2 separate regions of the Homo sapiens genome follow, and region 1 is linked to region 2. The links come from fine-mapping of genetic effects on gene expression. Tissue or cell type: ovary. Region 2 holds a variant in brackets; the other region holds the start of a gene. All regions are shown on one strand. Distances are from middle to middle.

What was found. PIP is the estimated chance that this variant, and not a neighbour inherited with it, causes the effect.
Region 1: it holds the start of NOP10, and the variant in region 2 is fine-mapped to the expression of NOP10 in ovary (GTEx, PIP 0.98).

What each region holds. Positions count from the first base shown.
Region 1 is chr15:34,338,725-34,346,831 of GRCh38, reverse strand. NOP10 (NOP10 ribonucleoprotein) reads left to right here and starts at 3,696. Exons shown (of 2, transcript NM_018648.4): 1 at 3,696-3,812; 2 at 4,724-5,113. The coding sequence starts at 3,759. The coding sequence ends at 4,864. NUTM1 (NUT midline carcinoma family member 1) reads right to left here and starts at 3,517. Exons shown (of 8, transcript NM_001284292.2): 1 at 3,130-3,517; 2 at 797-890. The coding sequence starts at 3,135. RefSeq lists silencers at 3,664-3,763, 3,844-3,953.
Region 2 is chr15:34,268,966-34,277,072 of GRCh38, reverse strand. It overlaps SLC12A6 (solute carrier family 12 member 6), which reads left to right. Exons shown (of 26, transcript NM_001365088.1): 3 at 1,684-1,728. Among named protein-coding and RNA genes, the nearest start is that of EMC4, 48 kb to the right of the region's middle. The variant T/C (reference allele first, on the strand shown) is at 3,849.

The DNA.
Region 1 (8,107 bases), 70 kb before region 2:
AGCTCACTGCAACCTCCGCCTCCTGGGTTCAAGTGATTCTCCTGCCTCAGCCCCGCAAGTAGCTGGGATTACAGGCACGAACCACCACATCCAGCTAATTTTTGTATTTTTAGGACATACGGGGTTTACGCCATGTTGGCCAGGCTGGTCTCAAAAACCTGACCTCAGGTAATCCACCCGCCTCGACCTCCTAAAGTGCTGGGATTACAGGCATGAGCCACCGCACCCGGCCCAAGCAGAGGCAGTTTATAATACATTCCAGCCTAGTTTTCAGGAAGGCATTTCTCTGCAACAGATAACTACAGATTATCTTTTCCCACTAAGGTCCTTCCCACCTTACCCTCCCATCCTCCATCCTCCACATCCCCTTCCCCTCATAAGCTCAAGCATGGCAAAATCCTAGAACAGGCTCCAGTTGCCTAAAAAAGACAGATGAACTTGGGCCTTCCCCCTTGAAACCTCTCTGTGCCAGTCCTAAGACACATACCCCTGATCCTCTCTCCCACCACAAAAACACATGCGGAAGTGTCCCCTGTTCAAGAGAATCAAGTTGCTAATTGCCATCCTTTCTCTATACTCAGCATGTGTCCTCAGAGACACCTTAATCTGTCCTTAAGGAAGTCCTCTTCCTTCCCCAGCCCCTAGTCTTAAAGGTACAATCTCCTTCCCTAGCCTCCCCAAGTGTGATACCTTTGACGGGGTGTAGCACCTCACATTCCTTTAGGTCAGCCCAGAGAGCTTGTCTCAAAGGATATGAGCAGGTACCAGAAATCCTCCTCACCACCTGCAGACTTACCTCCATCTGAAGCCATCCTCTCAGGTTTGGGCACTAACTGTGGCTGTCTGGAAGCCTCCAGAATGAGGCAGTCAGGTCCAGGACCCAGAGTAACCTGGCTCCAGTAGGTGCACAGGGATCCAAGGAAGGGAAGGTAAAGATCAGATCACACAGAACTAGAATACGGAACTCAAGGCATTCTGCTGTGGGGGAGGGGAGAGGGAAAAGTGGGGTGAGGGTGGGGACAGATATTCCATGAAGGGTTCTAGTAAGTATGAAAAAACCAGGAATTCCCTTCAAACTACAGTTTGGCAACACAATTGATGTTTGCCTCTTTAGGGCTATTTGTAAACTTTTTCTCAGATTCCCAACACATTACAGTTTTACCGTTTGGTTCACTACACTTCGATTCTTCACCAACATATCTCATTTTGTGTCCTTCCATCCCAGCCAGTTCTGTAACTGACTTCCTATTAACAGCAGGTTGACTGTAGACCCCTGACTTAATTCAATGATGGCTATATTTTCTGAACTAAATTCAGAGTACATTGGTCTATACACGTAAGGATCAAGGGAACTAAAGTTTAAAATTAGAATTGTCAGATGATCCAAGGTGCTCGATTGCTGTGTGCACATCATTTCCTTGGAAAGCTGTCCAATCTACTAACATAGGCTCTGTACTCCACAGACGCCTTACCCTTTGCTGAAAAGCCTCACTAAATAAAAAAGCTGCCATGCAGTTTAAAATTTCAAGAGTAGAAAGTCCTTCTTTTTGTTAAATTATTTTGGTTTAAACTTTAAAAATAAAATTTATCTGCTAAGGTTCCTGGCGACTATTTCAGGCCAGTAACTCCCAGAGCATCCTCTACAGCCACAGCTTCATCCAAACGTGGATTTCCCCCAAAAGGCCTTCCCTGGGGTTCATGGCATCTTTCTTGCTTCCTCTGAGATATCTTTTCTCTTTTCTAAAGACCTGAAGGCTAAAATCATCATTTTCCTTTCTAACAAAATTAACTACTTAGATTTAAATTTTTTTTTTTAAACAGAGTCTCGCTCTGTCACCCAGGCTGTAGTGCAGTGGCGTGATCTCTGCTCACTGCAAGCTCCGCCTTCCGGGTTCACGCCATTGTCCTGCCTCACCCTCCTGAGTAGCTGGGACTACAGGCACCCACCACCATGCCCGGCTAATTTTTTGTATTTTTAGTAGAGACGGGGTTTCACTGTGTTAGCCAGGATAGTCTCGATCTCCTGACCTCATGATCCGCCCGCCTCAGCCTCCCAAAGTGCTGGGATTACTAGGCGTGAGCCACCGTGCCCGGCCTTTAAAAAATTTTTAACAGGTAATAAATACATTAGCAAGGTTCAAAAATCAAACTGCGTAATAAAATACATAGCAATAAGTCTGCCTCCCAACCCTTACCCCTTTCTCCTGCAACTAAGTTCTCTATCCCAGAGGAAACCAGTATCATCTGTTTCTTGTGAATACTTGCAGAGATTTTTTATGCAACTACAAGTAAATACAAACCATATTCTTTTTTTTTTTTTTTTTTTTTTGAGACAGGATCTCGCTCTGTCGCCCAGGCTGGAGTGCAGTGGCGTGATCTTGGCTCACTGCAACCTCCGCCTCCTGGGTTCAAGTGATTCTCCTGCCTCAGCCTCCCGAGTAGCTGGGACTACAGGTGCCCGCCACCACGCCCCGCTAATTTTTGTATTTTTGGGGGTTTCACCATATTGGCCAGGCTGGTCTCGAACTCCTGACCTTGTGATCCACCCGTCTCAGCCTCCCAAAGTGCTGGGATTACAGGCGTGAGCCACCGCGCCCAGCCACAAACCATATTTTTTTTTCTTTAAGACGGACCCAGGCTGGAGTGCAGTGGTGCTATCTCAGCTCGCTGCAACCTCTGCCTCCCCGGCTCAAATGATTCTCCTGCCTCAGCCTCTGAAGTAGCTGGGACTACAGGCGCCCACCACCACGCCCGGCTAATTTTTCTGTATTTTTAGTAGAGACGGGGTTTCGCCAGATTGGCCAGGCTGGTCTCGAACCCTTGACCTGTGATCTGCCTGCCTCAGCCTCCCAGTGTTGGGATTACAGGCGTGAGCCACCGCGCCCCGCCAAACCATATTCTTAAAAAAAAAAAAAAAAAAGTGCAGGTTTTTCTGGTTACACAGTTAATATATATTCCAATGCTTTTGTCATTGTAAATAATGGCGTAACGATGATCTTTGTAATGATATTTTGGTTCTCATTTTCATTTCTTTAAACGAGAGTCTTATAAGGAGAACTTCTATATTCTTTTAAAAATTGTAAAAACTCCTAGAAGGTGCACTTTATTACGTTATTATTAGCTACTCACCACCATAAGAAAGAGCGCTGAATTTGCGGTAGGGACCTAACTTTAAATCTTGGTTCGACCGCTGAAACATGCTTCACCAGTTTCATAAAATAACTTTACGCTCTTTCGCTTTACGGAATATTGATACTCAACATGCATTCTTTACCGCCAACGCTTTGAAATGGAGCAGGGGAACTGGATGTAAAAGAGGGGAGGGAAGAAAACCTCTTCTTTCTTCCCTAGGGTAAAGGGGCTCTGAATCCTGGAGCCCTTGTTTCTTCAGGCATTGAAAACTCACTGCTCCTGAAATGGGTGTGTATCTTGAGACAAAGACAGGCTTCTATACGTCAATATTCTATCCACATCCATCCCTACCCCCCTCTAACGCCGTGTACCTAGCACACAGTAGGGACACTCCACGTGTTTTAGCCTGCAAAGTTGCAAGTAGGGCCCCAAGCCAAGCCCTGCTCTCGTGCGCCCCCTTCTGGCTAGCTGAAAACAAGGCAAAAATTGACTACATTTTCCGGAGTGCCAGGAGAGAGAGACTTCCGGTTATGCAGGAAGGAAATTGACGAACACGTGACGCGGTCGGGCGGACCACTGCAGACTGAGCGGTGGACCGAATTGGGACCGCTGGCTTATAAGCGATCATGTTTCTCCAGTATTACCTCAACGAGCAGGGAGATCGAGTCTATACGCTGAAGGTGAGGAGAGAAAACAGGGTGTAAATAGGCATGGCGAGAAATGTAGATGGGAGGAGTGGGTGAGGTCATACGTGGAGTTACCTAGCTGGGTGCGGGGAACCAGAAAGTCCAGAACCGAGGTGGGGAAGAACCGGGACCGCGCGACTCATTTTTTAATTAAAAGAAAAAATTCTGGCGGGGCGCAGTGGCTCCCGCCTGTAATCCTAGCACTTTGGGAGGCCGAGGCGGGTGGATTGCCTTAGCTCAGGAGTTCGCGACCATTCTGGGCAACACTGTGAAACTCCGTTTCTACTAAAATACAAAAAATTAGCCGGGCATGGCGGTGTGCGCCTGTTATCCCAGCTACTCGGGAGGCTGAGACAGGAGAATCGCTTAAACCCGGGAGGCAGAGGTTGCAGTGAGCCGGGATAGCGCCATTGCACTCACTTTTCCTTTTTTTTTTTTTTTTTTTTTTTAAAGACAGGGACTCGCTTTGTTGCCTAGGCTGTAGTGCGGTGGTGCGGTCTCGGCTCACTGCAACCTCCGCCTCCTGGGCTCAAACAATCCTTCTGCCTCAGCCTCCCGAGTAGTTGGGACTACAGGCGTGCGCCACCATACCCGGCTAATTTTTGGTTTTGGGGTTTTTTGTTTGGTTGGTTGGTTTTGTTTGTTTGTTTGTTGTAGAGACGAGGTTTCGCCATATTGCCCAGGCTGGTCTCAAACCATCCTCCCGCCTCGACCTCCCAAAGTGCCAGGATTACAGGCGTGAGCCACCGCGCTCGGCCTTTTTAAATTTTATATTTCTCTATTTATTTGTACAACTTTTTGAGTTGACCATTGCATCTTCTATTTTCATGTTTGCCCTTTTTCGCGCTGGCCCCACCCCATTTCATCACTCCTGTACTGACATACATTCTGTGTTCCTGGAGCAGAAATTTGACCCGATGGGACAACAGACCTGCTCAGCCCATCCTGCTCGGTTCTCCCCAGATGACAAATACTCTCGACACCGAATCACCATCAAGAAACGCTTCAAGGTGCTCATGACCCAGCAACCGCGCCCTGTCCTCTGAGGGTCCCTTAAACTGATGTCTTTTCTGCCACCTGTTACCCCTCGGAGACTCCGTAACCAAACTCTTCGGACTGTGAGCCCTGATGCCTTTTTGCCAGCCATACTCTTTGGCATCCAGTCTCTCGTGGCGATTGATTATGCTTGTGTGAGGCAATCATGGTGGCATCACCCATAAAGGGAACACATTTGACTTTTTTTTCTCATATTTTAAATTACTACAAGATTATTAAAGATAAAATGATTTGAAAAACTCTTATTTTGTGAGTTGTTGGAGGAAAGGATTGGCAGTATTTTTTTAAAGGGAGGGAGATGATAAAGGAGAGTACCCCAGAGAGTTGCAACAATACCACTTGGAAGAAAAACTTCAGTCCTGCTGTTGCAAGAGTGGTCATGTGCTGTTCATGATAGGAGGGTATTGGGGAAGAAAGATTAAGACTTTCACAGCTGTCAGCATTCACTGAAAAATACCTCTGTTGTCACTTAACGTAATTTCTTGTCCCTTGAAATAAGATTTTGATTAAAAATGGAAGAGTACTTGTAAAAGTAATAGGCATATTACAGACAGAGGTCAGTGAATTGAAAGTCAGAAGACCAGTATTTGCTTTTTGTATAACTTTGAGAAAGTTACTTAACCTGTTTAGTCTGATTTTTCTCCTGATTAACTTATCTTTGAACTCAAATTGATTTAGTGGTGGGCCTTTCTTTTTTTTTCTTTTGAGACAGAGTCTAGATCTGTTGTCCAGGCTGGAGTGCAGGGGTGCAGCCTTGGCTGACTACAACCTCCGTCTCCCAGGTTCAAGCAATTCTCCTGCCTCAGCTTCCCAAGTAACTGGGATTACAGGTGCACGCCACCACACCTGGCTAATTTTTGTATTTCTTTTAGTAGTGACAGGGTTTCGCCATGTCGGCCAAGCTGGTCTCAAACTCCTCACCTCAAGTGATCCACCCACCTCAGCCTCCCAAAGTGCTGGGATTACAGGCATGAGTCACCACACCTGGCCTGGGTCTTTCTTTTTTTTTGAGATGGAGTTTTGCTCTTGTACCCCAGGCTGGAGTGCAGTGGCGCCATCTTGGTTCACTGCAACCTCCGCCTCCTGGGTTCAAGCTATTCTCCTGCCTCAGCCTCCCGAGTAGCTAGGACTACAGGCGCACACCACCATGCCTGGCTAATTTTTGTATTTTTAGTAGAAACAAGGTTTCACCTTGTTGGTCAGGCTGATCTCAAACTCCTGACCTCAAGTAATCCGCCCGCCTCAGCCTCCCAAAGTGCTGGGATTACGGGCATGAGCCACCTTGGCCGGCCTAGTGCTGCAGATTTTAAAATTGCTTTGTGGAGTCTGTATTTTAATTCTGCAATCTTTATTTTCTATGATAAAAATTCTAGATTCCAGAAGCAGATATAACTTAAATTAGCACAGATGTGATTTATGAAGACATACCCTGGAAATACTTTTTTTTTTTTTTTGAGTCAGGTCTCACTCCTGTGGTCCAGGCAGGAGTGCAGTGATGTGATCACAACTCATTGCAGCCTCTACCTCCCTGTCTCAAGCGGTCCACCCCATTTTTAAATTTTTTATAGAAACGAGGTCTCACTATGTTGCCCAAGCTGGTGTTGCACTCCGGGCTCAAGCTGTCCTCCTGCCTTGGCCTCCCAAAGTGTTGGGATTACGGGCGTGAGCCACAGTGCCCGGCCAGACTTTGCTTTTCTTGGATCTTGCTATTTGACCATCCCAGCAGAAAAGTTCAGGATAGTTGTGGGTTGCTGAAAAGAAAAAAAAAAGTCTCTCAACTGGAGTCATAATTAATAGAAGACAGATGATTTTGAAATACATTACTGAAACATATAGGAATGGTGAAATGAGATACTTGTTTCCTGTCAAGGAATTTTATTTCTTAGCCTGTTCACTTACTTGCAGGGTTCTTAACATTGGATCTGAAGGATTTTAAAGAGTTAACTTAGAGAAATTGTGAAATGGGATACTTGTTTCCTGTCAAGCAATTTTATTTCTTAGCTTGTTCACTTACAGGATTGGATATAACATTGGATCTGAAAGATTTTTAAAAGTTATCTTATCCAATTAAGGGGATAATGATTGGAGACATGTTTCTTAAGCACCAAAGTCAGTAAGTGAATTTTGCTACCAGTTTTTTAATGTTGGCTGCAGTTCTGCCTTTATCTTACAAAAAAGAAAAAAAAAAAAGAATTAGCATTGCTCCATGCTACCACCTGTGTAGACTTAAAAGCTTTAACCTGAAAATATTCCTAATGAATATAGAGGAGAGAAAGCAAACTGGCATGAATATAAAAAGGACTTTTTCCATAAGAGATCCCCTGAGGAATGAGGCTTCATTTTGCACCAGAGGCTGTGTCTCCCTGAGAAAATAAAGAGATCCCTGGGGTATTAACGTCTGAGACATACATTTATAGAGCTTGGTTAGTGCTCAGAAACAAGAAAAGTCTTAACAGGGATAGTATATTGGAATTAGGTGGTACATATAAGTAAATGCAGATACACTGGTAGGAAATTGGGTTTCATAAAAATTCTGTGTTTCTTTATAAAGGAAAAGTCTGAAGTTTGAATGAACGGCAGGCCTGCCTGAGGAAAAAATTGATCCTGCTGAGGATGGATGAAAGCTGTGGGCCTGAATCAAGAAACCCAGACTTTATAAAGAGTCAAACTTTAGGAGGTTTACACTTTACATTAGGATTTCTCATTTTGTTACCAGGATCTTTTTAACCTTTTTGATCCTTTAATCCTTGAAAGGATTTGGACTTTGTGTGTCATTTGATAAAAGAGAACTTCCGGGAATACAGTTCCCATTGCTAGGAGTGCTGCTTAAACATAACCACTTGTGAGGAGCCAAGACCCCAGGCAAAACCGGGGGCCAGTTTCTGGGCCCAGGTGATTGTTAAATTTAGAGGTCTTGATCACAGCTATAGGAAATAGCTTTTCAAACAAAACATTGGTGAGTCAGAATTTATCGAACACCACCATTTATACATTAAATAAACACTAAGAAAAAATATTCTAGCGACAAATGTAGTGGTGAAAACATGGAATGGATTTGAGAAAATACATCAACGTCTTCTCCAGGTATAAAAAAACGTATTATTTAGTGGAACTTTCAGTCTGACTAGAAAGTGGACATAGCATTTATTAAAAGGACAAGAACAACAACAAAAAATTAAAGTAGGACAAATGTGTTTAAGGTACTTTATAGTTTTATTTTTATTTATTTATTT
Region 2 (8,107 bases):
AATATTCTAGAATAGGAACATTTCAAATTTTCCTTTTTCAAAGCAAATTAAGGAAAAAAATCCCCTGAAAATAAATTGTTAAATGTTCAAATAGCATTTAAAACTTCTGTGGTAGAAATCAGATTTCTACCTGACTTCCTTAATTAAAATATATAGTGTATACTCCAATATACATCAGAAACTGGAATTTGTTAAGTATTCTGATTGTTTCTTTCTGTCTGGGATGCTTAAAGTGTTAATTAAATGATATGTAAAACATATGTGGACTATGGATTTTGTCTAAAACAATAATGTGATATAAAAATGTCTCAGATTTATTGTTAGACAAAATCAAAGGTACTTTTATGTAATCTGTTGCATACATCATAGCTGTAGAAAATCCTTAACTTCAGTTAGAGGTTAGTGAAAATAAAGATGTGACTTTTTTTCCCATTGTTCACATAAACCCTGGTCTAAAATTATTTTTATTACCCCAGGCACATTCAAGGAAGCCAGAATCATCAGCGTCTCAAGAGATTTAGTCTTTGAGGAAAGTGGAGCTTAGTCTTTTCTGTTTTTAGCTCTTAGTGCTTTTCAAACCTTTAAAATAAGTAAGTGGTTGACTGTTAAATGATGATTGTCAATATCTCTTGCATTAGGAACTTGGCTTATTGCCACGAATTTTATTTCAGATTACTAAAGAAATTGATATTTATGAAAGCCAATGTAGTCAGTGTATCTTAAAGTCAAACTACTAGAATATATCTGCTAATAGTAATAAGTGCTTTATTTATGTCTTGACTTTGAGCTGCTATAGCCATAAGTATTTTTTGTCATTAAAATGTTCCTTCGTCATTAAAAATATAATTCATATCACAATCCTGAATCATCCTTCTACTTTATGAAACGACTGCTTGGTCAAATTTGTGTGATTATTATTTTTTTAATTTACTTTTTATTGTGGCAAAATATATACAATACAGAAGTTACCATTTTAACCATGTTTAAGTGTACAACTCAGTGGCATTAATTACATTTACAGTGTTGTACACCCATTACCACTATCTGTTTCCAGAATTTCTCATCACCCCAAACAGAAACGCTGTACTCTTTAAGCAATAACATTCCATACCCTACTCCACCCAGCCCCTGGTAACCTCTAATCTGCTTTCCATCTCCATAAATTTGCCCTTTCTCAACATTTTATATAAATTGAGTCATATAATATTTATCTTTTTGTGTCTGGTTTGTTTTCCTTAGCATAATGTTTTCAAGGTTCATCCATGTTGTCACATGTATCAGAATTCCATTCATTTTTATAGCTGAATAATTTTCCATTGTATGTGTATATTACATTTTGTTGATTCCTTCATCTGTAGAAGTATACCTGGTAACCTTTTGGCTATTGTGAATTATTTTGTCATAAACTTTGTGGTAAAGTATCTGTTTGAGTCCCTGTTTTCAATTATTTTGGAAGTATAATTAGGAGTAGAATTGCTGATGGTGATTATGTTTAACTTTTTGAGCTATGTGATCATTCTTTACACTAGTTCATTCTATTTTTTATTATCTTCACATTAATATTTCATAAGTTTTTAAATTTTTTTGCTTATTTCCTTGGTTGACTTTTGTTGCTGATTTTAAAGAAATTATTTGTTTTGATCATTCATTTTTTTCTTTTCTTTTCAATTGTTTGTTTTTCAGACCTGAGTCAGAACTCCATCACAGGGGAACACAGCCAACTGTTAGGTATAGTATTACTGTGGGGATTGACTTTATCCAAAGTCACCCTTAACTCATTTATCCTAACAGACATTACTCCCTTCTCTGATTCTATTTTCTATCCCCTCCTTTTCTACTTCCCACCCAACAACTTTTTTCCTGCTGTTTCTATTCCCAACTTGCCAAGTTTTAGGAAACTACTTCTATAATTGATTACTAAGACTCAGTTAAATTAAAAAGTAATTTTGCATGGTTTATGGTTAAAAAAAATCTAAGAACTAGAATTTTTTAAAGATAATTTGGAAAAGAAGATATTATAATAGCTTTGTAATATCTGACTTTGCAGCTAATTTTCCCTTTTTATTACTTTTCTTGGCCTTTTGATCCCCTTTTTAATTATTGAAAGTACTTCATAAACAGTATGTCCTTAAGCAGTCCTTAGAATTTGGTGTTCCAGTTCCTTATCTATGAAACAAATTATGGAAATGAATTTACTTCCTCTGGGTACCACTTCTTTAAAGTAAGTGCATAATTTGACAAGAATTTCTCTTTTTTTTTTTGAGACAGTGTCTCGCTCTGTCACCAGGCTGGAGTGCAGTGGTGCGATCTCCACTCACTGCAAGCTCCGCCTCCCAGGTTCATGCCATTCTCCTGCCTCAGCCTCCCAAGTAGCTGGGACTACAGGCGCCCGCCACCACACCCAGCTAATTTTTGTATTTTTAGTACAGACAGGGTTTCACCATGTCGGCCAGGATGGTCTCCATCTCCTGACCTCGTGATCCGCCCACCTCTGCCTCCCAAAATGCTGGGATTACAGGTGTGAGCCACTGCACCCGGCCTTGACAGGAATTTCACAAGACCTCAGGACTGATAAATTTTCAAAGTGTAAAAAGAAACATACCCTGATGAGGCATTCAGCTCAAACAAAAGGCATATATAAAGAAAGTAAAAGTATCTCTTCTTCTTACCACCTCATTTCCACCTCTTAAAAGTACTTGCTGTTGACAGTTTCTTGGGAATTCTTCTAGAAATTTTTAATTATAAATTTTTGTATTATATATGACTATCTTTTCCTTTTTATATCAATGGTGTTATAGTAAATGGACTGTTCTATTATACAGACTGCTTCTTTTTACTTAACATTTTACCTTGGACATCTTAGTACATAAAGTTCTGCTTCATTCCTTTGTTTGTGATGGAAGAGTATTTCATTGTGCTCCTGCACTATAATTTTATTCAGCCAGTTTCCTACTCATGAGCATGTATTTCCAAGTGTGTTACTGTTGTAAGTTGTGTTGCAATGAATATCTTATACTTATATCCAGTATATAAGATAGATATATCAGTCTTAATGCCAGTATATTTGTAGGGTAAATTCCTAACAGTGGAATTCCTTACTCAAAAGATATGTACATGTTTAAAAAGATACATCAGCTTAAACTCTCACCAGTATGGAGTAATGCTTGACTCTCTATAATAAAAAAAAAAACAGGTATTATTAATCTTAAAATAGTTTCTTTACCTAATAGGTGAAAATGGCATCTCTAGTTTTTTATTTATACTTCCTTCAGTGTAAGTGAGGTTAAGTAATTTTTAGTATATTATTTGGTATTTAACACTTGTGTGTCTATGTATGCTTTGATTTGAGGCTTATTTTGATCCCTGCTGAGCTTTTAGCTGTTTAAATATGTGTAAAGCAGCTATGGAAAAATAAGCTATCAAAAAGTCCAAAGTAGGGAAAGTAAAAACTTCAGAGGATTAGTTGAAGAAACTGGGATACTCCTTTTTCGTTCTTTCTATATTAAAGACTTAGGATAGTCCTTGGGTTAATGAGAAGAGTTTATGAGACCATAGCCCTCATTCCTTTAGTGAGTTTATATGCTGAAACAGTACCTGACATCCTAGGCACTCAGTATATATTTGTTAAGTAAATGGTTTGACATAAATATACAAATCTGATCACCAAGGTCCTGACCGTGTGATGTTAGAGGTTTTTTGTTTTTTTGGTTTTTGGTTTTTTTGAGATGGAGTCTTGATCTGTCACCCAGGCTGGAGTGCGGTGGCACGATCTTGGCTCACTGCAACCTCCACCTCTCAGATTCAAGCAGTTCTCTGGCCTCAGCCTCCTGAGTAGCTGGGACTACAGG[T/C]GCACGCCACAGCGCCTGGCTCATTTTTGTATTTTTAGTAGAGTCAAGGTTTCGCCCTATTGGTCAGGCTGGTCTCGAACTACTGACCTCAGGTGACCCACCCACTGTGGCCTCTCAAAGTGCTGGGATTACAGGCATGAGCCACCACTCCCGGCCACTTTTTTATACTTTTATATTGGATAGTTTCTATACATTGCTCAAAATTAGTCTTCTGTATATAAAAATTTTATATTTGGATCAGGAACGATTAAACTTTCATTGAAAAATTTTGCCAGACCATGAAAAGAACATCTTTCCTCTAAACTATGAAAGTGTTTCTGTCCCTGATACATACATGACAGGCAGAGATGTTTGAGAATAGTTCATTATCAGGAACACATGTACAATGGAGGCAGCTTAGCTAGTGAAATGGACAGTCAAAAGTTGATACAGTTCTAGTATTACTAAGCTGGATTTTGTTCCCAGCTAATCACCTGCAGTAAAGGATACCTGGGGAACTGTAGGCAAAAATAAGTAACTTTGATTATGAAGGAAGAGTTATCTTAGTCATTATTAGCCAAAAAATTCTAATAGTATTTGCAAAGAGACTGCTTCAAACATTAATCTCATTTGGCAGCCTACAGTTGCATTCAATTTTTAGCCAACCTGAGGATTCATCCAGTCTTCTGGCCAGATTATCAGGTATGTCCATCCTGCCAGCCTGAGTTCTCTCTCCTAGATTCATGGAGTCAGATCATATTTTCCTTTTTTCTCATGCTCTGAAGAACTATCCTCTTCTGTCTTCTGTCTTAAGTATCTTTGTTTTAGCTGTAGCCTCAAAACCTTTAAAAGTCTGGTTTAATTAAAAGAAATTCATGAGTTTGCAAAAGACTGAAAGATTTTTTTTGTTGTATTTTCTAACCATCTGATAAGTTACTCAGAAAAGGCATTATAAGGTTGAATGAAAATCTTCCAACCAGGCGCCGTGGTTCACCACGCCTGTAATCCCAGCACTTTGGGAGGCCAAAGCAAGTGGATCGCAAGGTCAGGAGTTCGAGACCAGCCTAGCCAAGATGGTGAAACCCCATGTCTACTTAAAAAAAATTGGCCGGGCATGGTGGCGGGTGCCTGTAGTCCCAGCTACTTGGGAGGCTGAGGCAGGAGAATCGCTTGAACCAGGAGGTGGAGGTTGCAGTGAGCCAAGATCGCACCACTGCATTCTAGCCTGGGCGGCAGAGTGAGACTCTGTCTCAAAAAAAACAAAAACAAAAAAAGAAAAAGAAAAAAAAAGAAAATCTTCCCAGCTCTCCCTAAAAACCTTGTTTAGGATAATTTGGCCTGGTAGGTGAAAAACTGGTTCAATTGCCTTGCCTGCTTAATTGAATTTGTAATAACATCTTTCAGACCTTTGCTGTTGAATTGGATATATAAAAGCCCTTTCCAGTCCTTCTAAATGTTTTTACTGTCAACAGGGCACAGTTATTTTAATGTATCTACTGTTCCCACTGACTCATCGGGTCTCTTGCAAAACTCAGGGTCAGGCTGAGGAGATATACGGGAGGGTGAAACTGCTGTTGTAATAATCAAGCTGTACACCTGTGATTTATGAACTTTTCTGTGTGTGTGTGTGTGTGTGTGTGTGTAGCTTTGCACTTAAAAAAATTTTTAGAAAGCTAGCAAGCAAACAAGCCATGGGTCCTGGCATTATTAAAAGTTTTATCAGGCATCCAAGGAAAAATAATTCGAGTCTTCTGCAGTCAGTCTCTCATAAGGAATAGAAAACCAAGTAACTACTACCTCAGTTTTGAGGCTTTTGCAACCTTGATAACCAAAACTTAAGAATGGCAACATGAGATTAAAAAAAAAAAAAAGTATAGGCCAACCTTACTTAGGAACATATCTACAATCCTGAACGAAATATTTGCAATCTGAATCGGGCAACATATTTTTTTAAATTATCCCCTCATCAAGTTGAGTTTCTGCTAGAAATCCATGGTTGGTTTAATATTGAAAGTTAATTTATATAATTCACTATGTTAACAAATTAAAAGAAAAATATTGTATAATAATCTTAATAGAGGTTGAAAAAGCATTTGATTTGAAACATACCTGATATGGTTTGGCTGTGTCTCCCCCCACTCATCTTGACTTGTAATTCCCATAATCCTCACGTTTTGTGGGAGGTAACAATCATGGGGGCGGTTTCCTCTATGTTCTTATGATTGTGAGTGAGTCTCATGAGATCTGATGGTTTTATAAGCATCACGCATTTCCCCTCCTTGCACTCATTCTCTCTCCTGCTGCCCTGTGAAGAGGGGCCTTCCACCATGATTATAAGTTTCCTGAGGCTTCCCTAGCCATGCTGAACTTGGAGTCAATTAAACCTCTTTTCTCTCTCTCTTTTTTTTTTTTTTGTTTTTTGTTTTGTTTTGTTTTGTTTTTTGAGATGGAATCTTGCTCTGTCACCCAGGCTGGAGTACAGTGGCATGATCTCGGCTTACTGCAACCTCCATCTCCCAGGTTCAAGTGATTCTCCTTCCTCAGCCTCCCAAGTGGCTGGGATTACAGGGACCCACCATCACACCTGGCTAATTTTTGTATTTTCAGTGGAGACGGGGTTTCACCATGTTGTCCAGTCTAGTCTCAAACTCCAAGCCTCAAGTGATCCGCCTGTCTCGTCCTCCCAAAGTGCTGGGATTAGAGGTGTGAGCCATTGTGCTCAGCCAAACCTCTTTTCTTTATAAATTACCCAGTCTTGGGTATTTCTTCATAGCAGCATGAGGAAGGGCTAATACAGTAAAAACCCAGTATTTAAGTTTATGAGTTCATAATGATAATTTAAAAAATGAGCCAGGCACAATGGCACACGCCTGTAGTCCCAGCACTTTAGGAGGCTGAGGAGGGAGGTAGGAGGATTACTTGAGGCCAGGGGTTCAAGATCAGACTGGGCAACATTGCAAGAACCCATCTCTACAAAAAAGCAAAAAATAATTAGCCTGGCATGGTGGCACACACCTGTAGTCCTAGCTACTCTGGAGGCTACAGTAAGCTGTGATGGTGCCACTGTACTCCGCGACAGAGTGATACCCTGTCTCTAAAACAAAACAAAACCCACAACTAACTGGTCACCATTGGAGTATTTAGTGAACCAATTATTCTGAGAACTGGTCAGTAAAGGGAAAGAATTATTCGTCCTGTTTTTAACTGAACCACTTGGTAATCAAATAGTAGATTAAAGGAAATGTCTCTTTTTATAGAGGTATTCTAGCTAATAAATGAAGGAACAATAATAGAATGAGAATATTACCATTTGGTGACCTCTCATAAATTAATGGAGCTAGGCATTACTCATCAACAATTGCTAATATCTCAAAAGGAAAGACAACCAGATGACAATGACATGTACCTCCTGGCAGTTCATAATACCACTGTGAAGTAGTTTTCCTCCCTACCCTCCTAGAAGTACTGAATGTGATTAAGCTTTTAGATTCAACTACCAATTTATAGGAATTACAAAAAAAAAAAGAGCATGTTAAACAGCATCACATGGATGCCATGATCAAAACCCAGACCATCAGAAACTCTCCAGGACAAATGACATGGTTTCCTTAACACATCAATGGCAAAACAAAGTATAAAATCAAAAACATGTAGCATTTGGGATAACCTTTCAGATTCACATAGTCACATAGTACAAACCCAAACCTGTGCCAAGGGAAATTAGGTACACCTACTGCTCTCTTGCCTAACTCAGACTAGCAAAGGCCATTTGACAAGATCAGGAAGCTAAAGGAGTAACTTGAGATTTATCTAGGGCCCAAATTATAGTATAAGTGGTAATTGACAAATGCAACATTATAGAAGTAATAACATCACAACAGTAAAGTGTTTATATAAAGAGTAAGACCTTTGGTATACCTTTTTTCTGTTTACAAAAAAAAAATATGCCATGAAAAACAGAAATCTGAAATATTTAGTAGAATTATCCTATCAGTTTTCATTTGAATTATGCAGTGAAACACCAGTAAGTTTCCCAAAAATGTCAGCATTATTTAGATAGTAAAATGAGAAAAAAGAAACATAATAGTGTCTGGGCGCAGTGGCTCACACCTGTAATCCCAGCAGTTTGGGAGGCTGAGGTGGGTGGATCACCTGAGGTCAGGAGTTCAAGACCAGCCTGGCCAACATGGCAAAACCCCATGTCTACTAAAAATACAAAAAATTAGCCAGGCATGGTGGCAGGCGCCTATAATTCCAGCTACTCGGGAGGCTGAGGTAGG